Linked DNA regions of Homo sapiens: all the other regions are linked to region 4. Evidence: fine-mapped expression QTL. A gene starts in region 4. Each other region holds a variant in brackets. All regions are shown on one strand. Distances are between the middles of the regions. Region 1 overlaps BCL2L13 (BCL2 like 13). Region 2 overlaps BCL2L13 (BCL2 like 13). Region 3 overlaps BCL2L13 (BCL2 like 13). Region 4 holds the start of BCL2L13 (BCL2 like 13). Region 5 overlaps ATP6V1E1 (ATPase H+ transporting V1 subunit E1). Region 6 overlaps BCL2L13 (BCL2 like 13).

Evidence for each region.
Region 1: its variant is fine-mapped to the expression of BCL2L13 in whole blood (TOPMed, PIP above 0.99).
Region 2: its variant is fine-mapped to the expression of BCL2L13 in cerebellar hemisphere (GTEx, PIP above 0.99).
Region 3: its variant is fine-mapped to the expression of BCL2L13 in whole blood (INTERVAL, PIP 0.98).
Region 5: its variant is fine-mapped to the expression of BCL2L13 in activated naive CD4 T cells (Schmiedel 2018, PIP 0.95).
Region 6: its variant is fine-mapped to the expression of BCL2L13 in whole blood (TOPMed, PIP above 0.99).

Annotation. Positions count from the first base shown.
Region 1 is chr22:17,729,871-17,733,977 of GRCh38, forward strand. It overlaps BCL2L13 (BCL2 like 13), which reads left to right. Exons shown (of 7, transcript NM_015367.4): 7 at 1-985. Among named protein-coding and RNA genes, the nearest start is that of MIR3198-1, 32 kb to the right of the region's middle. The variant C/A (reference allele first, on the strand shown) is at 1,572.
Region 2 is chr22:17,724,465-17,728,571 of GRCh38, forward strand. BCL2L13 (BCL2 like 13) reads left to right here. Exons shown (of 7, transcript NM_015367.4): 7 at 2,213-4,107. The coding sequence ends at 3,070. Among named protein-coding and RNA genes, the nearest start is that of MIR3198-1, 38 kb to the right of the region's middle. The variant A/G (reference allele first, on the strand shown) is at 2,383.
Region 3 is chr22:17,689,432-17,693,538 of GRCh38, forward strand. The region is part of intron 4 of BCL2L13 (BCL2 like 13); the gene reads left to right. Among named protein-coding and RNA genes, the nearest start is that of BCL2L13, 53 kb to the left of the region's middle. The variant TTG/T (reference allele first, on the strand shown) is at 1,927.
Region 4 is chr22:17,636,589-17,640,695 of GRCh38, forward strand. BCL2L13 (BCL2 like 13) reads left to right here and starts at 2,169. Exons shown (of 7, transcript NM_015367.4): 1 at 2,169-2,298. RefSeq lists enhancers at 434-1,306, 1,307-2,178, 1,731-1,780, 1,831-2,010, 2,131-2,410 and 1 more.
Region 5 is chr22:17,606,318-17,610,317 of GRCh38, forward strand. All of the region lies in intron 4 of ATP6V1E1 (ATPase H+ transporting V1 subunit E1), which reads right to left. Among named protein-coding and RNA genes, the nearest start is that of ATP6V1E1, 20 kb to the right of the region's middle. The variant T/C (reference allele first, on the strand shown) is at 1,581.
Region 6 is chr22:17,682,497-17,686,603 of GRCh38, forward strand. It overlaps BCL2L13 (BCL2 like 13), which reads left to right. Exons shown (of 7, transcript NM_015367.4): 3 at 718-825. Among named protein-coding and RNA genes, the nearest start is that of BCL2L13, 46 kb to the left of the region's middle. The variant T/C (reference allele first, on the strand shown) is at 2,216.

The sequences.
Region 1 (4,107 bases), 93 kb after region 4:
ACCCTCTGCCTCCAGCAGTGGAAGGGAACAGCCCTCATGAGGACTGCTTCCTACTGCAGCTCCTGCTTTTTGCTCATACATTTAAAAAACTATTTCTCAAGCTTCCCCTCCTTTTGGGGGGAGGAGCTGATAGTAGGAGGCCATTCCTTCCACCTCCAACTTATACCCTCTAAGTCTAAGGTGAAGGAAAGATTCAGAATAAATCCAACTTGTTTATAGAAAAGTTCTTGTTAGTCCTTAGACCTCATCTCAACTGCTCTGTTGAAGGTAATGATTTATTGGGGGGAAAAAACAACGCCAATTTATCCTCTCTGTATTAAAGTGATAATTCTGGGCCCACAGAAATCAGTCAGTACCTGCGGTGTGCCTTAAGGGGACTCTCATGATCATCATTCCCTTCTAGAGAACATTCTAGATGAAGAAATGCAACTGTTGACCTTCTGGTTCACCCATCTCCCCCTCGAGGCATTCTTGATACCCCTTCTCACCTGCATTTCTGTCCCAGGGATACCAGATGCAGCCACTACCTAACTAGGCTTGTCCTGGGGGAGTGAGCCGTGAACCTGGAGACATGGCTTTGACCCACAGCTACTGTTCATTTCCTCAGGCTTTGCGCTGATTCCCTCAATAATATGACAGTAAGGCAAGTAGTCTCCTTGCCTTTCTCCTGAAAGGTATGAGATGTGGACATTTCAGTGTTTGAATTATTTTAAGAGATGTTTTATAGAAATAAAACGTTTTGTAGCTAAGAATTTTCCCTTTCTCTTAATTTCTTACATCTTTCCACACAAACTTATCTTTCCAAGAATTTGAGGTGGTGATCATACCCATCAAGACGGCCTTGTAGGCTATCTGATTGCTAACAGACACGACCTAGAGCTTCTGCCCAAATTCCCACACAAGCATTATCTCGTTTAACATCTCAGCGACATACTGGATACCAGAATAATGTTTCCTCTTCTCTGGTGCACCAAAACCTGCCCTTAGTGATAATCTCTCAATTATGACATTCATTTGAGTTTAGGGTGTATAATTTTTCCTAAAAAAAATTCATGTCGATAATTATATTTTAGCAAATACTAGTTGAGCATTTATAACATGCCAGAGACGGTTCTAGTGCTCTCACATACCTTATTTCACCTTCACAGTTCTAATAGCTGTTTGTATTCCTTTTATTCCCATATTACAGAATGAAGAACCTAATCAGAGTTTGTTAGTTTTTCTTTTTCCTTTTTTTTTTTTTTTTTTTTTTTTGAGACAGAGCCTTGCTCTGTCGCCCAGGCTGGAGTGCAGTGGCACAATCTCGGCTCACTGCAAGCTCCGCTTCCCGGGCTCACGCCATTCTCCTGCCTCAGCCTCCCAAGTAGCTGGGACTACAGGCGCCCGCCACCATACCCGGCTGCTTTTTTTGTATTTTTAGTAGAGACAGGGTCTCTACTATGTTAGCCAGGATGGGCTCGATCTCCTGACCTCGTGATCCACCCGCCTTGGCCTCCCAAAGTGCTGGGATTACAGGCGTGAGCCACCGTGCCCGGCCCAGAGTTAGTTTTTCTAACGTCCTCAAGCATAGG[C/A]GAGGCAAGGCAATGATTTTGCCGGTTTTTATCATTTTCCTGGCACTGCAAAGCAGTATTGGCAGGTCCCCTGCAAACAGTTGCGCCAGTTGTTTACTGCATAAGGACTGACTGGGGACAAATTCCGACGTGCAGCCTGTGCTCTGCTCACCATGCTGTGGGCTCTGGGAGAAGCGAAGTATTTTTCTAATTTGTACAAAGGCACCATATAGGCTCACTTAAACATTAAGCATGTTCTACTACAAAAAAACAAGAGTGAGGGTTAGGTCCAGGACTGGTCTCAGCTTCCAATTATGTAGCTGTTTTCCCTGTAGACATTGAGTGAGATGCTTTGTGGTTACAGAATTCACAGTCATTGCCGATGAGCTTTCATTAGCTTTCTTGATTAAATATTTTTGCTTGTAGACAAGGTTAGGCAATCTGTCCCAGCAGTTATCACAAAGTGCTAAATGAGGGGGGTGAAGACAGCACCACGATGCATTTCTTGGTCTTTTTCTGTTTGTTCGAGTTCGTCCCTTCTCCCCTGTGTATGCCATCATAAGGGTGGGGCTGTGGAGTGAAGTAGGGGAATACCTGGAAGCATTGCTTGGCCTCTGGACAGACAAAGAGGTTGGGGACTTAGGAGGGTTGACCAGGTATGGCCACAAGTACGTCAGCTCCTGGAGGATCTTCCCAGTGAAAAGCCTCCTACTACATTCCACAGCACTTCATGGTAATTATAACCTTGGCTAGATAATACCTGCTGTATGGTACAGAATAGTGACATTCAATTACCTCATATATAAAGAGAGCTCCATGGAGAGCTGGAAAGTGCATGCCACTACAATATTAACACATCCCATCTTCCCTTTCTTTTTGCAAGGCTGTTGAATTTCAGCCCGGCATCCCCACACACTAACACCATCAGGTCTTCCACATTTGATGGTTACACCACAGGAGCCCACACCAGACTGCTGCTTCCCTGTGAGCTCAGAGTGAAATTGTTCTCAGGGGTATTTGCAAGGCCTTGTCATCAGTTAAAGACTAGCAGCTGACTCCAGGTGATTCTACCCCGCTGTCACCTCTCCAAAGGGGAAATTGAATAGTGGTATTGCTCACTGTGGTGAGTGTTCTTTGCACCACCAGAAGAAACTGGTTAATGAATGTACTATTTAGAAGAAAAGTTTTGACATTTAAAGATTACTAGTTGTTCCCTTTCCCCAGGAAAAGAAGGTCAAAGTACAGTCTTCCCTGTTGCAGAGTTTGGAATAACTCTGTTTGCCCTGATGCTTTCCAGCAGGAGAACTGTATTATGTAGAGGGGTCCTTGGCCAGCATCAAAGGAAAAAAATTATTTTTTTCCTAGACCTGTATTTTTCCTATTACAGTCTTCCATTTATTTCTTCCTCCAGATTAAAAGTGCCTCTTCCTACCTCATTCCTTAATTAAGGTCAATTTAGTGTTGGCTCAAATGCTTTCATCTCAAAAATACCGGAATTGAATGGTAATTTGGATAATTAAGTTATCGTGCATTTTAAGCAGCATGTGTTTCCTTTTTCCGTGTGAGTTCCATGAGCCTCTGCACTGCCGCTCTGCACTGCTGAACTGATCACTGTGGGTCATTCTGGCTCCTCTTCCTTCCTGTCATCTACCTTTTGGCCAATCTACTCTTCATCAGGGGAAAGGAACAAACTTCAAATCTGTGAGTTATTCTTTCTGTCAGAAGCAACGTGCTAGAGAGAATACATGGGATTTGAAGATAATCAGTGGACTCATCTTTCTATCCACATGGTAACTATGCCCTTGACAGGTGGTATCATTTCACATCATCAATTGTCTTTGTTAAGTCCATACTTAATTGGTTTGACTCCAGGTTTTGAAAACAAGATCGTAACATTCAAAGGACTCTATATTCCAATTCTCAGCTAGCACAACTAATAAAGTTGCTGGACAGTAAAACTAGGCGCCAGTGCTGTGATCCTTTAAGGAAGCCTTGAGTATCGCAGCAGTTAATGCTGGGTCCTAAGAGGAGAGGTCAGGAATGATTTGACCTTCTGAATGCACCAAATGTCCCACGTGACTTTCAGATACACCAAGCATCTTTTCAAGGAGAAAGCTTTTGATGTTTAACAAAAGAATTTCCATCACTTAATTCAAATATTTTTAAAACAGAAAGGAAAACACATTCTCTGAATTAAAGTCACCTTTGAATCATATCCACAAGGATTGTGTTACAGGGCAAAATCCACCAACTGCCAGGATATGCCCGAGTCACCATGGCTGGGAAGTGCTCAAGACTGGAACATTTGTGTTTGAGACAATGGAATCTTTTTATAATGTTGGCTTTGGGAGAAGGGGTGACGGTCTTGCTTTACAACCAAGACTATCTCAGACTTGGTCTGGAAGAATTTACACTAAGACCTGTTATAAAATGGTGGCCTACTGTATGAATTCAAGTGAAACAGAAGCAGGTGAAGATGCTGTGGAAGAGTCAGTGTGTGAGAGAGGTGGTCCAGAGTCACTTGCTGCTTAAGAACACTTTCCCATTAGTTCCGGGT
Region 2 (4,107 bases), 88 kb after region 4:
CCATACTCATAGAACATCCTTGATGCTTACCAGGGCCTCTGAAGTGGCTGGAGCAAGGGTCGAGGTAGAAAGTGGTGCAGTATGATGCCGACATCATGGTCGTGTGATTTATTTGTATTTCTTATTTCCTTTTTTATGGGGCTGATAGACTTTTGATTTATGTTAGATCCTTGATGTATGTAGAAAGTTTTTGGTTTTGGTTGAAGAATGAAATTATCCTACTTCAGTTGAATAGCAACCATAATCATAAAATGAAGTAGAAATTAATTTGCTTTACATATTCCATTCAGATTCCCTGTAGCTTTTACGAGTGTTGTCTAGCCTTTGTATGACAATTTCTGTACATCTCTGTGACATTCCATTCCATTGGTTCTCTTCCTGTCCTTTTATTGCGCCTTACCCTCTGGGTTGGCCTAGCCCCTTGTGCATACACCTGTCATAAAGCTTTCTGTATCATATTGAAGTTAGTTATTCATATGTCAGGCTTCACAGCTGCCTAGTAAATTCTGTAAGAATAGACCCATTCTTTCTCGTAGCCCTTGTGCCTGACACAACCCTGATAAGCAGTAGGCACACGGTGGCCTGTTATTAATAGACATGGACACAAGGCCTGTGCTGTAGGGCTTTATTGCTTTCACTCAGACTTCCTGACAAAAGAAGCAAGAGTCTCCGTGTCTGCAGCATTTCTCCATTCTGTCTCTGCCATCAGAGGAATTTTAAAGCAAAGCTCTGATTATAATTTTGTACCTCAGAGATGTCAGTGACAAACCATCGCCTGTTGGATAAAGTCCATATTTCTTAGCTGTCATTCAGGTTCCTCCATGGTCCTGTCCTCACTGACCTTCTATTCTTCATGGGCACTCTGCATTAATTAAACAGGGCTCTGTCCTTATCTTCTTTTTTTTCTGTCTCTGTGCTTTTGCCTGCATTGTGTCTTCTGTGTACCCTTCGCCTGCCAAAATCTTACCCATTCTTCAGATGTCTGATAGAAATGCTAGTCCCTCCGTGAGGCTTTCTGTGATCTCCCTGCTTTCTCTGACCTCTACCCAAAGAGGTCTTTTTCCCATCTGAACTTTTTTTCTTCTTCTTCTAAGGAAAGCAACACTGCCATATGAACTCTTAATGGCACTTGGACTATGACATAGCATTATTTGTATACCCTACTAAGTGATAAATTCCTTGAGCACAAGGTCTTGCCTTTGTTTTCTCTGCTGTTTTGCATTAATTACTGCATTGAACATACAGGGTGAGTATCCCTTATCCAAAGTGCTTGGGATCAGAAGTGTTTTGGATTTTAATTTTTTTTTTTTTGATTTTGGAATGTTTGTGTGTATGTGATGAGATGTCTTGGGGATGGGAAAGCCCAAACATGACATTTACTTCTTTTTGTATGCACCTTATACATATAGCGTGAAGGTAATTTTATATAATATTAATATATTAATTTACAAATATACAATATTTATAACATAAATATATATAATATTTTGTGTGCATGAAGCAGATTTTTGACTGTGTTTTGCCTGCAACCCACCACATGAGGTCAAGTGTGGAATTTTCCACTTGTGATGTCATTTCAGCACTCAAAAAGTTTCGGATTTTGGGCCGGGCACAGTGGCTCACGCCTGTAATCCCAGCACTTTTGGGAGGCCAAGGCGGGTGGATCACTGAAGGTCAGGAGTTCCAGACCAGCCTGGCCAACATGGTGAAACCCCATCTCTACTAACAATACAAAAGTTAACTGGGCGTGGTGGCAGGTGCCTATAATTGCAGCTACTGGGAAGGCCGAAGCAGGAGAATCGCTTGAACCTGGGACGCGGAGGTTGCAGTGAGCTGAGATTGTGCCACTGCACTCTAGCCTGGGAGACAGAGCAAGACTCCATCTTAAAAAAAAAAAAAAAAAAACCTCAGATTTTGGATCATTTCAGATTTCAGGTTTTCAGATTAGGATGCTCTCAGCCTGTGTGTGAATTACACTGAATGTATATTAACTTAGGATTTTTTAGTTTCAAGGAGACTGCTCAGAAGACTGTCAAAAATTCTTTCTCTGCATTGGCCTACAAATACATGCATTCCATTCGGAAACTATGTAGGTTTAAACAGTGTTTCATTCCTAGAACTTCAGTTTAGGAAAGAATTTGCTTTCCAGATTGATGTTTATGTTTTAAATAGTTACCATTCTTTATTATTGACGCTTGTCCTTCGTTTCTAGGGCACTGTGTTTAGTCTTGAGTCAGAGGAGGAGGAATACCCTGGAATCACTGCAGAAGATAGCAATGACATTTACATCCTGCCCAGCGACAACTCTGGACAAGTCAGTCCCCCAGAGTCTCCAACTGTGACCACTTCCTGGCAGTCTGAGAGCTTACCTGTGTCACTGTC[A/G]GCTAGCCAGAGTTGGCACACAGAAAGCCTGCCAGTGTCACTAGGCCCTGAGTCCTGGCAGCAGATTGCAATGGATCCTGAAGAAGTGAAAAGCTTAGACAGCAACGGAGCTGGAGAGAAGAGTGAGAACAACTCCTCTAATTCTGACATTGTGCACGTGGAGAAAGAAGAGGTGCCCGAGGGCATGGAAGAGGCTGCTGTGGCTTCTGTGGTCTTGCCAGCGCGGGAGCTGCAAGAGGCACTTCCTGAAGCCCCAGCTCCCTTGCTTCCACATATCACTGCCACCTCCCTGCTGGGGACAAGGGAACCTGACACAGAAGTGATCACAGTTGAGAAATCCAGCCCTGCTACATCTCTGTTTGTAGAACTTGATGAAGAAGAGGTGAAAGCAGCAACAACTGAACCTACTGAAGTGGAGGAGGTGGTCCCCGCACTGGAACCCACAGAAACGCTGCTGAGTGAGAAGGAGATAAACGCAAGGGAAGAGAGCCTTGTGGAAGAGCTGTCCCCTGCCAGCGAGAAGAAGCCCGTGCCGCCGTCTGAGGGCAAGTCTAGACTGTCCCCCGCCGGTGAGATGAAGCCCATGCCGCTGTCTGAGGGCAAGTCTATACTGCTGTTTGGAGGGGCTGCTGCTGTTGCCATCCTGGCAGTGGCCATCGGGGTAGCCCTGGCTCTGAGAAAGAAATAGGAGGCTTTTCAGAAGAGAAAGACAGAAGGATGTAAGGTTGGAGTTGTATTGGCTGGAATTTGAACCTCCAGCAGCTGTCTGGACATTTGTGGAACACTCTGGGATAATTGGGGACTTCTGCTCAACATGGCAGTGGCATGTTAGGCATGTTAGGGCTTGAGGTGGGGCATTCACATTCATCTGACTGTAAATCCCAAGGGCCTCCGCTCATGCTAAATTGAGAATCTTAGGGGTAAAGCACCCCCTCCAGGACCGGGTTTCTCAGCCTTGGCACTAGTGCTGTTCTGACCATTCTCTGTGTTGGGGCTGTCCTGTGTGTGGTGGGCTCCACCCACTAGATGCCAGTGGCACCCCCTCCCAGAGATGACAAACGAAAATGTCTCTAGACATTGCCAAATGTCCCGTGTGAACATCCCCTATTGAGACCCACTGCTTTAGCGAGAGAGGGTTTACTTAGGAAGAATTGGGATAGAAATTCCCAGCTGAGAGAACTTAGCTGTGGGCTCCTCAGCTACTGACTTCTTAGCTCTTAATCCCCTTAGAATTTCATCTTTCTCGATGAGCAGGCTCTGCACCCACTCTTTTTTTGCCCCCCGCCCTCATCCTGGAGTGTGAGGGTGCTCGCCCGTACTCTCAGCTGCCTCTCAGGGACTGCACTGTTCCTCTTCACCCCCAGGTTCCTGCTAAGATCCCACGGGCGAGGGCTTGCTCTGGACTCAGTCTGTCAAGTCCCCGAAGCTTCCTGCAGCTCCACCTTGTAAAAATGCTGCCTTTGGGAATCTTCGAAATATGTACACAGAGAAAATCACATGAAGGAGACCTGGGGTCCCCACTTGTGAGTGCAACTGCAAGTAACTCTGGCTAGAGAGACACATGTGTCTTGTGTCAAGGCAGGAGGATAACCTGGATGACCTTCTGAGGTCTCTTCAGCCCTTTTCGCTAGTGGTCACCCACCACCATGGTTACTTGCCAGCAACATCTCTATTGCTGGATGGTCCCTGTCTATAACCTTGGGCTAGTATATTTTTTCCAATATG
Region 3 (4,107 bases), 53 kb after region 4:
ACTTCCCCAGACCACTTTTTACTGCCATTTCCTCTAGTCGTGACATGAATATAATGGCTAGCGTTTTGTGCGTTGTAATGTGGGATTAACATTATATCTGTATTTTAGAATTCTGTATTTAACATTTTATTGACCGGGCGCGGTGGCTCACGCCTGTAATCCCAGCACTTTGGGAGGCCGAGGTGGGCGGATTATGAGGTCAGGAGTTCAAGACCAGCCTGGCCAATATGGTGAAACCTCGTCTCTACTAAAAATATAAAACTTAGCCGGGCATGGTGGCGCATGCCTCTAGTCCCAGCTACTCGAGAGACTGAGGGAGGACAATCACTTGAACCCGGGAGGCAGAGGTTGCAGTGAGCCGAGATCCTGCCACTGCACTGCAGCCTGGGTGACAGAGCGAGACTCCATCTCAAAAAAAAAAAAAAAAAACCCAAAAAACCGTTATATCTGTATCCCAGAAGTTGCTCAACTTTAGGGTTGCACATCTGCCAATGGAACTGCTTCTACATTCTTATAGAAGGAACTTCTCTCCTAGCTATGGTTCTGACCATATTAAAGCTAAAGGCAAGAAGCTAGTAATAAGGAAAGTATTAAAATAGAACCAAATCATTTATTATAAATATTAAAAATCAGCCTGTAATCCCAGCACTTTGGGAGGACGAGGTGGAGGTATCACTGGAAGTCAGGAGTTGGAGACCAGCCTGGCCAACATGGTGAAACCCCATCTCTAGTAAAAATACAAAAATTAGCTGAGCATGGTGGCAGGTGCCTATAATCCCAGCTACTCGGGAGGCTGAGGCAGGAGTATCGCTTGAACCCAGGAGGCGGAGGTTGCAGTGAGCTGAGATCATGCCATTGCACTCCAGCCTGCATGACAGAGGGAGACTCCATCTGAAAGAAAAAAATTTTTTTTTTATTTTCCTGTAAGCAAAGTATATATCGATTACCGTTTGTTAGAAGAAAGTAATTTGGGTTTTAGGAGAATTTGATTTTTTGTTGCGTAGTATTGTGAAATGAGCAAATGTAAAAATACTAATTATGCTTAAACAGTGAAATGAAATCGTATTTGGTAATCTCAGTACTTTGGGAGGTCCAGGCGGGAGGATTGCTTGAGGCCAGGAGTTAAAGACCAGCCTGGGCAATATAGCCAGACCCTGTCTCTACAAAAAAAATGTTTAGAAAATTAGCCAGTGTGATGGCATGTTCCTGTAGTCCCAGCCACTTGGGAGGCTGAGGTGGGAGGATCACTTGAGCCCAATAGTTTGAGGCTGCAGTAAGCTATGATCACACCACTGTGGCACTCCAACCTGGGCAACAGAGCAAGACCTTGTCTCTAAAAATAAAAATTAAAAAAGTCGTATTTGGATTTTCTTAACCTAATATATAGTAAAATTTAAATATAAATATGGAGAGAAGTATATGGGTGTTGGGAAATAAAACTTACACAGGAAATTTGGATTTACAGCAGTTGTTTTCAAAAAGTGTTCTATGGAGCCTTAGGCATAGAGGTGCTGCAGGGGTCCTGAAGAAGTGAGGGATAGTAAGTGGGTTAAGCTCATTAGGGCCTCTCCACTCTTCTTTCTTTTTTATTTATTTATTTATTTTAAATTTTTTGTAGAGACAGGGTCTCACTATGTTACCCAGACTAGTCTTATAACTCCTGGCCTCAAGCAACTCTCCCACCTCAGCCTCCCCAAAGTGCTAAGATTACAGGTGTGAGCCATTGTACCTAGCCTTATTTATTTATTTTCCCACTTTTCTTAACCAGAGCACGTGTACTTTCATATATTTTATATTCTGAGGTTACATCTAAGACTTGAAGAAAGAAATTTGCTGCTTCACTCCTCTCTCCACAAAAATGTAAAAGTTATCTGGACCAGGAGTAAAATAATGAAGTGAAAGGTGCAGACTTTTAAAATAATCTTT[TTG/T]TCCTGGCTGGGCGCGGTGGCTCACGCCTGTAATCCCAGCACTTGGGGAGGCCGAGGCGGGCGTATCACGAGGTCAGGAGATTGAGACCATCCTGGCTAACACAGTGAAACCCCGTCTCTACTAAAAATACAAAAAATTAGCCCAGCATGGTGGTGGGTGCCTGTAGTCCCAGCCACTCAGGAGGCTGAGGCAGGAGAATGGTGTGAACCTGGGAGGCGGAGCTTGCAGTGAGCCGAGATTGCACCACTGCACTCCAGCCTGGGTGACAGAGCAAGACTCTGTCTCAAAAACAAAAAAAAAAGAATCTTTTTCCAAATTTGATACAGACTTTGGCTTGGAGCAAACCATGTCACCCTTAATATTTCAGTTCTCCATGTGTTAATTTTAACTTTATGGTGTAGTATAAGCTCTTCAAAAAACAGTGTTATGTAAGTTTTTAAAAGTATTGTTTCTGAAGTCCTTTTTATGATCTACAGGAAAAATTGATGTCTTCTCACAGCAAATTCTATTTAAAGGAGAATTGGCTTGGACAAATGTTTATTTTTTTCCCAAATCTTGATAGAATTATTTTTGAAATTGGTTATGTATCAAAGTCAGGTCTCTTTCTTTTTTCAGAAATCTGTTTTTAGAAGTTTTAAGCTCTGTTACTAGTACTTTGAAAATAACTAATGGATGATAAACTACATAAACTAGAAGTATTATAAACGTTGAAGGCAGTATCGTAAGGTAGAAAATACCACTGATTCCTCCAAAAGGTTTTGTTAATGTAGGAAGTTATTGCTGAACCCTTCTTACAGAAGAACAACAGCTGTTTCAAAAAGGTATCCTGCCCCGCTCTTTTCTTCTTTGCTCTATTCTAATAGCTCACTAGGTAGGATTGGTTATTTAGCTACTTACTTTTCTATGTATTTGATTTCCTTTGAATGTTTTAATCTGCTGCATTTTTTGTGCATGTATGTCTGTGTATATGATGTTTCAAATCATGTTTCATTCAGAACGATGCTAAAATACTTTAGCCTGGTAGACAAACAACCAGTAAGGACTACTGTGACCCCCAGCAGCACCAAACAGTTCAGGAAAGGAAGTGAGGGGACTGATATATGCAAGTAAAGCTTCAGGGAAACTATAGGTAGGTAGACTGTGTAGTATCTGCTGAAGTTCAAGGTTTACACGAATCTGCTACTTAGCCCAAGGCATCTGAAAAGTACTAGGCTCACTTTAATGGGAAGGTGATGCCAGGAAGATAGCATATGCTGTATACATTTCATCATTACAGAGGCCATCTCTGGTATCTCATTTCCTTTCAGCATCACTGTAGTATTGATTTGATACAGACTTAGGTGAAAGAATGATGCCTGTGTCATCAGGATTCTTTTCTGAAATATCTAGACCAGTGCGATTCAATGCAAGTCACATATAATGTGGTTTTAAAATGTAATTAAAAACTAGCAGCCAAGTAAAAAATAAAATGAAATGTAAAATTTTTAATATTTTATTTAGCCCAGTACATCTAAAATATTTCAACATGTATTCAGTACAAAAAATTATCGAGCTATTTTGGATTGTTTTTTCTTCCTCATTGAAATCTAGTGTGTATATTATACTTTCAGCACACTGGCCACGTTTCTAATGCTCATTAGCCACATGTGACATCGAGACATTGTCATGGCATGTGTCAGAATCTTAACTTGAAATGGGAGTAGTATAATGGCCTTTGATACCAGATCTGAGTGTGAATTCCTGCCTTGCTGCTTTCCGGCTATGTGGGTTTGGGATAATTTCTTAGCTTTTCTGAGCTTTGGTTTCCAAATATGTGATATAATAATATGTAATATAAAATATAAATATATGAAATATTAAAACCTAACATAATAAGCTACCAGTAAGTGGTAGCTATTATCAATCTTAAATATTCTTAAACTAAGGAAGTCATAGGTCACAGTGGACAGAGCAGAAAAATGCCTTTGGGGTAGTTTATTTATTTATTTATTTATTTATTTATTTAGTGTTTGTTTTTTTTTTTTTTTTTTTTTTTTGGAGACGGAGTCTCGCTCTGTCACCCAGGCTGGAGTGCAGTGGTGCAATCTCGGCTCACTACAACTTCCGCCTCCCGGGTTCAAGCAATTCTCCAGCCTCAGTCTCCTGAGTAGCTGGGATTACAGGCATGCGCCAACACGC
Region 4 (4,107 bases):
GACCAGCCTGGCCAACATGGCGAAACCCTATCTCTACTAAGAATACAAAAAAAAAATATTAGCCAGGTGTGGTGGTGGGTGCCTGTAATCCCAGCTACTCAGGAGGCTGAAGCAGGAGAATCGCTTGAACCCAGGAGGTGAGGTTCAGTGAGCTGAGATCGCGCCATTGCACTACAGCCTGGGTGACAGAGCAAGACTCTGTCTCGAGAAAATAATAATAAAAAATAAATAAATAAATAAAGGAAAAGACTGAGAGCAATGTGAAAGAAATGAACTTAAGTATGTACCAAATTGGTAACATAAGTACCTCCCAAAATAAATTATTGCATGTTACATTTTTGAAAGTTTTTTTAGGTAAAGTGTACATACAGTGAACTGCACAGACCTTAAAAGTAAAATTAGGGCCGGGCGCGGTGGCGCACCCCTGTAATCCCAGCACTTTGGGAGGCTGAGGCAGGCGGATCTCTTGAGGTCAGGAGTAGGAGACTAGCCTGGCCAACATGGTGAGACCCCGTCTCTATTAAAAATTTTTAAAAAGCCAGGCACGGTGGCTCACGTCTGTAATCCCAGCACTTTGGGAGGCCAAGGCGAGTGGATCACCTGAAGTCAGGAGTTCAAGACCAGCCTAACCAACGTGGAGAAACTCTGCCTCTACTAAAAATACAAAAATTAGCTGGGCATGGTGGTGGGTGCCTGTAATCCCAGCTACTTGGGAGGCTGAGGCAGGAGAATCGCTTGAACCCGAAAGGCAGAGGTTGCAGTGAGCTGAGATCGCGCCCCTGCACTCCAGCCTGGGCGACAGAGTGAGACTCTGCCTCAAAAAAAAAAAAAAAAAGTCTTCATTTTTGGTTACCCATTTCACTGCAACCTTTGCCTCCCAGGCTCAAGCGATTCTCCTGCATCGGCCTCCCAAGTAGCTGGGATTACAGGCGCGTGACACCATACCTGGCTAATTTTTTGTGTTTTTAGTACAGATGGGGAGTTTCACCATGTTGGCCAGGCAGGTCTGAAACTCCTGACCTCAAGTGATCCGCCCACCTTGGCTTCTCAAAGTGCTGGGATTACAGGAGTGATCCACCACACCCGGCCTGTACTATTAGTTTTCCAAGGTCACTAAGCCTTTCCTTTGCAAAACTTTATGTCCCTATTAATGGCACCATCCTTTCCTCAGTCACTCGGGCTTAAAAAGCATCCTGTGGCACCAGCCCCACAATAGCAGTTCAACTCTTTTATCACTTCCTTTAGAATAGCCTTGTTGAGATATAGATCTCATAACATAGAATTCACCTATAGTGTACAATTCAGTAGTTTTCAGTATTTCAAAGAGTCGTGCCACCATCACCCCAAAAAGAAACTCTGTATCCACTGGCAGTCACTCCCCATCAGGATTTTATCACTTCTGATCTGGCTCAGTCTTCTAACTCCTTATTGTCAATGCCCTCCTTGTTCCAATTCAGTACACACACCACGGGCAATTTGATCTCCCTAAAACACACTGTATCCTCTCTCCTAGATACCTTCCGATACTCCTCCAAAGAACTCTCGGATTCAAGTAAACAAACATCCATTAATACAAGTTAAGTATGTTCCAGGCGCTGTGTGTTCCAGGTACTGTTAACAAAAGCGGGTTACTAGTTAAGACTTCCTTCATGCCCTGGCGCCTCTGCTCAGCCAGTTCCCTTCGCCTAGGAGGACCTCTCTACACCACCCCGCTATATTCCCTCCCCGGAATTCCTTCCCAACCTTCAAGGACCATCTGCCCCAACTAGTGGCGAACATCGAGGCTGTCGTGACTGTGTAGATACTTATTTGACCTGCTCCCTTGGCAAACACTTGAAACGCAATACATGTTTGTGGAACTGAACATAGCCTGTGCATGCAGCAAGGCTTCTTTCCCTGGAATCGCCTGCCCTTCCTCCAACACAGCGACCAGCCGGTCAGAATCCCAACCCCTCGACTCCGGAAATGATCTGAGAGACGGAACTTCCGAACGTCGCAATCAGATTTGGGCGGGCTAGGAGGGTTTGGGTCTTCAGGTCACATCTGGACGGAGAGACCTCCGGGGCCTCCGTTGGTCGGTCCTTCCGCTCCGGATACCGTTCCGGATGTCAGGTAGTTCAGGTCCCGCCCCGACGCCGGCCGTGACGAAGGCACGCCGGGGTGACCTCACCCTCCAACATGGCGGCGGCGGTAGATTAGGGCCGCGGGTCGGAGCACTCACCGCCGCTGGGGGACCCTGTCGGAAGCAACTGCCGCCGCCGCCTCTTTCATCTCTTCTGGGGCAGGGGCCAGGGCCAGGTGAGGGGAGTGGGGTTCCGGGAAGGCTGAGCTGGGTGAGGAGGTGGTTTTCACCTGGGTAGGAAAGTGCCCAGAGACCGTATCGAGCCACCGACTCCCCAGTGGTTCCGACGACGCGTGAGTTTGAGTGTGTGTGTCTACACCGGCGCTCCTTCGCCCGAAGGTGCTCGGAGCTTAGGGGTCCGCTTCACCGTGACCGGACCTGGCCGCGCGGCCCCGCCGCTGAGCAGGCTTCTTCCGGCGTGGGGTGCCGGAGGCGGAGGAGCTCGGCCCTGGCTCCACGCCGCTGTCCTTCCCCACAGACAGCTTCACGTGGAAAACCCGGGTCCATTTTTAGGGCTAAACTGGGGAACGGCGACTTCTTTTTGGTTGAGGGAAAGGTTTTCCTGCGATTCACTTAGAACACTGGAAGATTAGCTTTGCCAGTCTTAGTCGTTTCTTCTCAGAGATTGTTAGAAGTCTTGTTTCTTAACCTTAATTCACTGCTGTTCTGACACCTATTTTTTCAGAAAAAAACTGCCTTCTTGCCCTTGGAGGCAGTACAGTTCACACGGAGTCATTTTCCCCCTTTGATTTATCCTCCCAACATTCTGTAAAGATCCTATTTCTTGCCTTCATAACCGACTTTCTGAGTGGAGGCTCTAACCTAGCGTTGAAAATCGGACGGATCTGGCCAGTTGTTCACATGCTGTTGACTGCTGGCTTTGGTTAGCTCTTAGCCACTCCCTGCACAAGTGTTTGTTTATTCAAAATAGCTATCTCACTGTCTCTGTTTAGAAGTTTGAACTAAGCTGAGAGCCCTCCCTCCTTACTTTTATTTTTTTGTTGTTGTTGCGTAAAACAAAACAAAAACTTCTTTGGCGAAATTATAAGATTTCCTCTGGAGGTTTAGTATAAAGCAGAATGTTGCTCTCTGCCCTGACTAGTGTGACCTTGGATGAGTTGCCACACCCTTCAGATACCTTCTTTCTTTTTTTTTTTTTTTGAGACAGAGTTTCCCTCTTGTTGCCTAGGCTGGAGTGCAATGGCGCGATCTCAGCTTACCGCAACCTCCGCCTCCTGGGTTCAAGCCATTCTCCTGCCTCAGCCTCCCGAGTAGCTGGGATTACAGGCATGCGCCACCACGCGGGGCTAATTTTGTATTTTTAGTAGAGACGGGGTTTCATCATGTTGGTCAGGATGGTCTCGAACTCCCAATCTCTGGTCATCCCCCCGCCTCAGCCTCCCAAAGTGTTGGGATTACAGGCGTGAGCCACCGCGCACGGTGATACCTTTTTTTCAACCACCCCCGCGCCACCGCATGAAGTATTATTTTCATTTTTAACACCCTCTCTCCCCCAAGTGAAGTATTCTTCATTTGGTAATAGGCAGTTAAGGGTATTGAAAATCTTTTTACTAGGAATGGTCAGGTACTGTTCTGTATTTTTTTTCCAATGGCTCATTTTTTATGTGGAAGAGTATATTCAGTAGTTGGATTCACTTTTTATTTTATTTTTAGTTGTCTCCTACAGCAAGGACCAGTAGTTGAATTCAATTGAAAGATGCCTAAGGCTATATCTAACCAGTCTTGTAAAAAAACAGACTTGTGTTTACTAGCACATAATCTAATCAACATGTATTAAATATCACACACATTAAGCTTTTAGGACAAGTGGTTTGCAACAGTAATAATCATTAACAACATTTCATTTGGCTGTTTGCGATGGCTCACTGTAATCCCAGCACTTTGGGAGGCTCAGGCAGGAGCATTGCTTGAGCCCGGGAGTTCGAGACCAGCCTGGGCAACATAAGGAGACCTTGTCTTCACAA
Region 5 (4,000 bases), 30 kb before region 4:
AAGTAAAAAGTTTAGAAATAGCAAAATCCACTCAAAGCATGTATGTGTGCTTTTATGCAGATTGAATCCTGTTTGATCGGTATCATTTCACAGTCTGTTTCCTCAACTCTCCACATCTCTTATTTACAGGGTTCAATGACGGCAAGAAGTTAAGACTGTAAGCGGTTAAAAAAGAAACAAGTATCTTTAGAATAACTGAAATTACATAAATGTTTATCTTCTCAAAATTCTCATTATAAGTCAGAGAAATAATATAAAAGCTCAAGCTATATACTGAATTCAAGTTGCATGCAACAGTATACTTGGATTTGTTCCAAAAGAGATTAAAACACACAGCCCAGCTTGTGAACAGGCCACGCACGCTGCCTTCAGCTCCTCACCTCACACGCACTTCTCCCTTCTCATGCCATAACAATCTGGCTTTCTGCCTTCATCAGTCCAATGAAACTGCTCTGGCAAATGTGAAAAACGACATCTTGACTGCCAAATCCAAAGACCACCATGCTCTTCCCACTGTCATTCTCTCAAACATTGAACACTGTATTAGAGACCATTTTGAGTTTGCCGTTCCCTTGGCTTCTCTGTATTCTCCAACATAACTGCTTTCCCCCACATTTCCTTAGCAATTTATTTTCTATTAAATCTGATGCTTCTCAGTTTTTTTGGCCCGCTTCTCTTCTAATTCTCCATCCAAAACCACAGCTCCAGCAGGGACTTCTGTGTTGTCTCCACATAAGCTCCTCTTCTCTCCTAACAGACTCATAGAGCTTCACCTGGAATCCTAAGGCAATTCAAACACAATGATTTTTTTCACCATTCTTTACCTGTTCTTCCTATATTTCTTTTTTTTTTTATTTTTGACATGAAGTCTCACTCTGTCGCCAGGCTGGAGTGCAGTGGCGTGATCCTGGCTCACTGCAACATCTGACTCCCTGGTTCAAGCAATTCTCCTGCCTCAGCCTCCCAAGTAGCTGGGATTACAGGCACCCCCCACCAGGCCCAGCTAATTTTTGTATTTTTAGTAGAGATGGGGTTTCACCATGTTTGCCAGGATGATCTCGATCTCCTGACCTCACGATCTGCCTGCCTCGGCCTCCCAAAGTGCTGGGATTATCTTCCCATATTTCTAATCTTCATTCCATCTACCAGTTGCCTAGACTACAAACTCTTATGTCATTCTTGACTCCTTTGCATTCACTCATCACAACTGTAAGTCACCAAGTCCTACAGATTCCTACCTTTTTAGGATCTCTGGAATAGGCCTGTCTTCTCTTTCTGCTGCCACCATTCTACTTCTCGACCTGGAAGGTAAGCCATACCCTCCTTGTTTCTACTCCACATGGTCACCAGTGGGGTTCCTCTAACACAAATGTAACCATTAAACACTATTTCTCAAAGTGTGGTTCTCAGACTACCTGCACCAAGATTACCCTGAGCTGCTGGTTTAAATGCTGACTCCTGACTAGAATATAAAAGTCTCTGGAAATGGGAATGAACATCTGCATTTTAACAAGGTCCCCCAGGTGATTTTTATGCCCATTAAAGTTAGAGAATTAGCCAAAAGGATGAAGTCCATATTC[T/C]TCAGCAGACACTCAAGGCCCTTCTAATTAGACCCTAATATGTGGCCTGTTCTCTGCCCACTCCCCACTCTGCCAGACTACCTCTGTTTCCCGCACATGTCAAATTCAGGTCTCGGTTTTTCACTCACACTGCTCTCTCCATTCTGTATCCTATCCCATGACTAATACTTCAAGTCATGCTCAAACAGCTGTAGTGGAGATGTATTATCTTGTCCAGGTCCTATTAGACTGCAGACTCCTAGAGGGGCCAGCACGATACAGGACACATGGGATAAATGTACTGTTAAATTCAAACAGCTTAGTGCCTCAAGGGAACCCAACTGAGTTATGACATGAAAACAGAAGAGTGACAACTGAGGGATAACATGAGTACCAAAACCAGAATTTTGTTTGCAACAATTTTAAAGTCAGCAGACAAACTCAGAGTGACTAAATCCGGGAAAGACATGTGGTATGAACTGAATGACTGCTTTGTCTTTCAAGGTCATAAAAAGAATTATTTTTCTCTAGCCCATTTCTTTTTGTTTCTATTATTTATTATTTTTAGAGACAGGGTCTCCCTGTGTCATTTATGCTGGAATGCAGTGGCATAATCACAGCTCACTGGAGCCTCAAACTCTTGGGCTCAAGTGATTCTCCCATCTCAGCCTCCAGAGTAGCTGGGACCACAGGCATGCGCTACCACACCTTGCTAATTTTTAAAAATTTTTTGTACAGACAGGGTCTCCCTATATTTATCAGACTGGTCTCAAACTCTTGGCCTCAAGCCACACTCCCACCTTGGCCTCATAAAGTGCTGTGACCACAGGCATGAGCCATGGCACCTGGCTAGCCCATCTCTGAAAGAATATGATGGATTACTGTATTTTGGAAAACTATCCTAAGTTGAAATTAAAACACATTCATTGGCCGGGAGCAGTGGCTCACGCCTGTAATCCCAGCACTTTGGGAGGCCGAGGCGGGCAGATCACGAGGTCAGGAAATCGAGACCATCCTGGCTAACACGGTGAAACCCTGTCTGTACTAAAAATACAAAAAATTAGCCGGGCGCAGTGGCGGGCGTCTGTAGTCCCAGCTACTCAAGGAGGCTGAGGCAGGAGACTGGCGTGAACCCGGGAGGCAGAGTCTGCAGTGAGCTGATATCGCGCCACTGCCACTGCACTCCAGCCTGGGCGATAGAGCGAGACTCCGTCTCAAAAAACAAAACAAAACAAAACAAACAAACAAACAAACAAACAAAAATTCATTCCATACAACTGCACTTCCTTTTTTTTCCTTTTTTGAGCGGAGTCTCACTCTGTCGCCCAGGCTGGAGTGCAATGACGGGATCTCAGCTCATTGCAACCTCCGCCTCCCGGGTTCAAGCAATTCTCCTGCCTCAGCCTCTCGAGTAGCTGGGACTATAGGCGCCCGCCACCACACCCAGCTAATTTTTTTGTATTTTTAGTAGAGACAGGGCACCACATTGGCCGGGCTGGTCTCAAACTCCTGACCTCAAGTGATCCATCCGCCTCATCCTCCCAAAGTGCTGGGATTACAGGCGTGAGCCACCATGCCCATCCTGCTCTTTTTTTTTTTTTTTTTTTTTTGAGACGGAGTCTGGCTCTGTCACCCAGGCTGGAGTGCAGTGGTGCGATCTCAGCTCACTGCAAGCTCGGCCTCCTGGGTTCACGCCTTTCTCCTGCCTCAGCCTCCCGAGTAGCTGGGACTACAGGCGCCCACCACCACGCCCGGCTAATTTTTTGTATTTTTAGTGGAGACGTGGTTTCACCGTTGTTAGCCAGGATGGTCTCAATCTCCTGACCTCGTGATCCGCCCGCCTCGGCCTCCCAAAGTGCTGGGATTACAGGTCTGAGCCACCACGCCCAGCCCCACACTTTCTTTTAATATCCTCCACCTCAAAATTTGAAAACCACTGTGTGTCATGAGAGATGTTACTAAAATGTAAAATAACTGTATGAATATTCCAGAGAGAAGGGAAAAAAGTTGAGAAGCACCGATATTGAAGTATTTGATAAATGAATGAATGATCTGAATTTTAGGTGTCAAGTTTTCTTATCTATGCCACTTCAAATTTTCCCTCTGAGGCCAGGCATGGTGGCTCTTGCCTGTTATCCCAGCTACATAGGAGGCTGAGGTGGGAAGGACTGCTTGAGCCCAGGAGTTTGTGAGCTATGACTGCACCATTGCATTCCAGCCTGGGCAACATAGCCAGACCATGCCTCTTAAAAAAAAATTCCTTCTAAAAGCCAACTAGTAATTATTTATATATTCTAATAGATTTAAGGCAGCTTACAGAAGTATATCTAATGAAAACGTTAATTACGTTTTTTAAAAAGCAAATTAGAAAAAATAACTAATAAAATATAAACAAGTGGATTAAAAAATTAAAGCAAAGAGAAAATAAGGGCAATAAATAA
Region 6 (4,107 bases), 46 kb after region 4:
GAAATATTAATAGCATGAATTCTTTTTGTTTTTATCATATTCCATCTTCATACTTTTTAAAAAGGATACATTGTCTACAAAAAGAGAGGACTGGCCCGACTTATTGATACATCTTTCCCAACCTCCTCTTGAGTTAATGTGTTTCTGAAGATTCAGCTCAATTTCCCTGTTTCTGGCAGAAACATCTGGAAAGGTGGAGACTTACTCACTCTCAATCCATAGGCCCAAATATTTCTACTAAAGGTTGTTTTTGATTTTTGTTTTTTAATTATTGCAAAAAGGATTTCCTCCCGTCCCTAATTTTGATAATGAATTTTGATTTTGCATTTTTTGGCTTAACAAATTGCTATTGTAGGGCTGGGTGCAGTGGCTTACGCCTGAAATCCCAGCACTTTGGGAGGCCGAGGCAGGCGGATCACAAGGTCAGGAGTTCGAGACCAGCCTGGCCAACATAGTGAAACCTGTCTCTACTAAAAATACAAAAAAATTAGCCAGGCGTGGTGGCAGGCGCCTATAATCCCAGTTACTTGGGAGGCTGAGGCAGGAGAATCGCTTGAACCTAGGAGGCAGAGGTTGCAGTGAGCGGAGATCATGCCATTGCACTCCAGCCCCAGTGACAGTGCGAGACTCCGTCTCAAAAAAAAAAAAAAAAGTGCTATTATATTCTAATGGTTTCTCTCTCCCTCTTTCAATAATAACCTTTTTTGTTGCTTTCAGGGGTTCAACTAGATATAGCTTCACAATCTCTGGATCAAGAAATTTTATTAAAAGTTAAAACTGAAATTGAAGAAGAGCTAAAATCTCTGGACAAAGAAATTTCTGAAGGTCTGTTTATTCTTATTTTTCTAGTTAATAAGCAGATTGTGTTTGTTATGGTTTACTGTTGGTTTAATTTGATTTTTACAGTGGGGTATTCTCAACAGTTAACAACTTACACCAATTATACATTGGTAGAAGTTTATAAGGGTAAAACTAGAAGGTAGCCTTTTTTCTTTCCTGGAGGATATGTTGATGGAAGTTCCCCAACTATACCTAACAGGTTAGATGTAGCAGTTTCTCATGTTAAGTATCGGATAAATGATCATGTTAAGGTTCTTTCCATTCACTATGGTTTGATTTGTATTTAGTATTACCTTTATAAGTAATAACGACATAAAAAGGAAAAAGTAAGCATACGCTTTTATTTTTGCATACATATATACTATAGATAACTGTAATTATAATGTACATTCAACTTTATAGCCATTTTATTTTGCACTTAACATTACAACATAAACTTTAAAAATAGTTACTCTACTAACTGCGTGAAATTTCATTCACTGAATAAATGTTTTTACTCAGTCATTCCATTATTATTATTATTATTATTATTATTATTATTATTATTACTATTTCAGAGACAGGGTCTTGCTCTGTTGCCCAGGCTGGAGTGCAGTAGTGAGCACTGGGATTACAGGTGTAAGCCACCATGCCTGGCCTGTTCCCTTGTTATTGAGGGGAGCATTTGGATTATTATTCCTTTTTTCACTGGACGACGACTACACAGCATTTGCATTATTTCCGGTTTTGTCTTCCATAGGTAATGCTGCACTGAACATCTTACCCAATGATATAAATATATTTTTACAGCTTTATTGAGATATATTTTACATACCATAAAATTCACCCATTTAAAAGGTCCAGTTCAGTCTGGGCACAGGGACTCATGCCTGTAATTCTAGCACTGTGGGAGGCCAAGGCCTCAGGAGGGTTGCTTGAGCCCCTGAGTTCAAAACCACACTGGGCAACATAGGGAGACCATGTCTCTATTTATTAAATAAATAATAATAATAATAAAGTACAATTCAGTGGTTGTAGTGTATTCACAGAATTTATCACCATGATCTAAATTTAGAACACTTTCGGTTCTCCTTAAAGAAACACAATACACATTAGCAGCCACTTCCCATTCCCACTAGCCCCAGGCCCCAACCCCACCCCACACCAGGCACCCACTGATCTCCATTCTGTTTTTATTGATTTGCCTATTCTGGAAATATACATAAATAGAATAGTTCACTATGTGGTGGTGGTGGTGGTGTTTTGAGATGCAGTTTCGCTCTCATTGCCCAGGCTGGAGTGCAGTGGCACCATCTCGGCCCACCACAACCTCCATCTCCCAGGTTCAAATGATTCTCCTGTCTCAGCCTCCTGAGTAGCCAGGATTACAGGTATG[T/C]GCCACCAAACCTGGCTAATTTTTTGTATTTTTTTTTTTTTTGACAGAGTCTGGCTCTTTGCCCAGGCTGGAGTGCGGTGGCGGGATCTTGGCTCACTGCAAGCTCCGCCTCCTGGGTTCAGGCCATTCTCCTGCCTCAGCCTCCCGAGTAGCTGGGACTACAGGCGCCTGCCACCACACCCGACTAATTTTTTGTATTTTTAGTAGAGACGGGGTTTCAGCGTGTTAGCCAGGATGGTCTCGTTGATCTCCTGACCTTGTTTTCTGCCCGCCTTGGCCTCCCAAAGTGCTGGGATTACAGGCATGAGCCACCACGCCCGGCCTGTAATTTTTTGTACGTTTAATAGAGACAAGGTTTCTCCATGTTGCTCAGGCTGGTCTTGAACTCCTGACCTCAGGTGATCCGCCCACCTCGGTCTCCCAAAGTGCTGGGATTAAAGGCGTGATCCACTGCGCCTGGCCACTATGTGGTCTTTTGTGACTGGCATTTTTTACTTAGCATAATGTATTTTTGTTGTTGTTGCTGTTTTTTAAGACATCGCCTTGCTCTGTTGCACAGGCTGGCATGCAGTGGCATGATCTGGGCTCACTGCAACCTCCGACTTTAAGGTTCAAGCAATTCTCCAGCCTCAGCCTCTTGAATAGCTGGGATTACAGGTACCCACCACCACGCCCAGCTAATTTTTGTTTTTAGTAGAGACGGGGTTTCACCATATTGGCCAGGCTGGTCTCCAACTCCTGACCTCAAATGATCCACCTGTCTCGGCCTCCCAGAGTGCTGGGATTACAGGCGTGAACAACTGCACCTGGCCGACTTAGCATAATGTTTTCAAGGGTCATCCATGTTGTAGCATGTATCAGTACTTCATTACTTTTTACAGTCAAATAATATTCCACTGTGTGGATGTGTCATATTTTGTTTATTCATTCATTAGTTAATGGAAATTTAGGTTGTTTCTACTTGTTTACTATTATGTATAATGCTGCTGTGAATATTCTTGTGCAAGTTTTTGTGTGGACATATATTGCCCAATAATTTTTTCTTTTTCTTTTTTTTTTTTTTTTTTTTTTTTTTTTTGAGACAAAGTCTCGCTCTGTTGCCCAGGCTGGAGTGCAGTGGCGGGATCTCGACTCACTGCAAGCTCCGCCTCCCAGCTTCACGCCATTCTCCTGCCTCAGCCTCCTGAGTAGCTGGAGCTACAGTGCCCACCACCACACCCAGCTACTCTTTTGGTAATTTTTAGTAGAGACGGGGTTTCACCGTGTTAGCCAGGATGTTCTTGATCTCCTGACCTCATGACCCGCCCACCTCAGCCTCCCAAAGTGCTGGGATTACAGGCGTGAGCCACCGTACCCAGCCTGCCCAATAATTTTTAATGATCAAAATTATAAATTATGTTCATAACTCATGTTCCTCGTTAGTAGAGAAAAAACACAGATAGAAATGTACAAATAATCCCGAGACCAGGTGCGGTGCCTGTAGTCCCAGCACTTTGGGAGGCTGAAGTGGGTGGATCACTTGAGGCCAGGAGTTTGAGATGACCCCAGCCAACATGGTGAAACCCTGCCTCTATAAAAATACAAAAAAATTAGCCAGGCATGGTGGTGCACACCTGTAATTCCAGCTACCTCGGAGGCTAAGGCATGAGAATCTCTTGAACCCAGGAAGCATAGGTTGTAGTGAGCCAAGATCATGCCACTGTACTCCAGGCTGGGTGACAGAGTGAGACCATTTAAAAAAAATGAAATGTACAAATAATCCTGAAACCTAATGTTAGTCTTGTCTTTTATATTTCTTTTTTTTTCTTTTTTTTTTTGAGACAGAGTCTCGCTCTGTCACCCAGGCTGGAGTGCAGTGGTGCGATCTCAGTTCACTGCAACCTCCGCCTCCC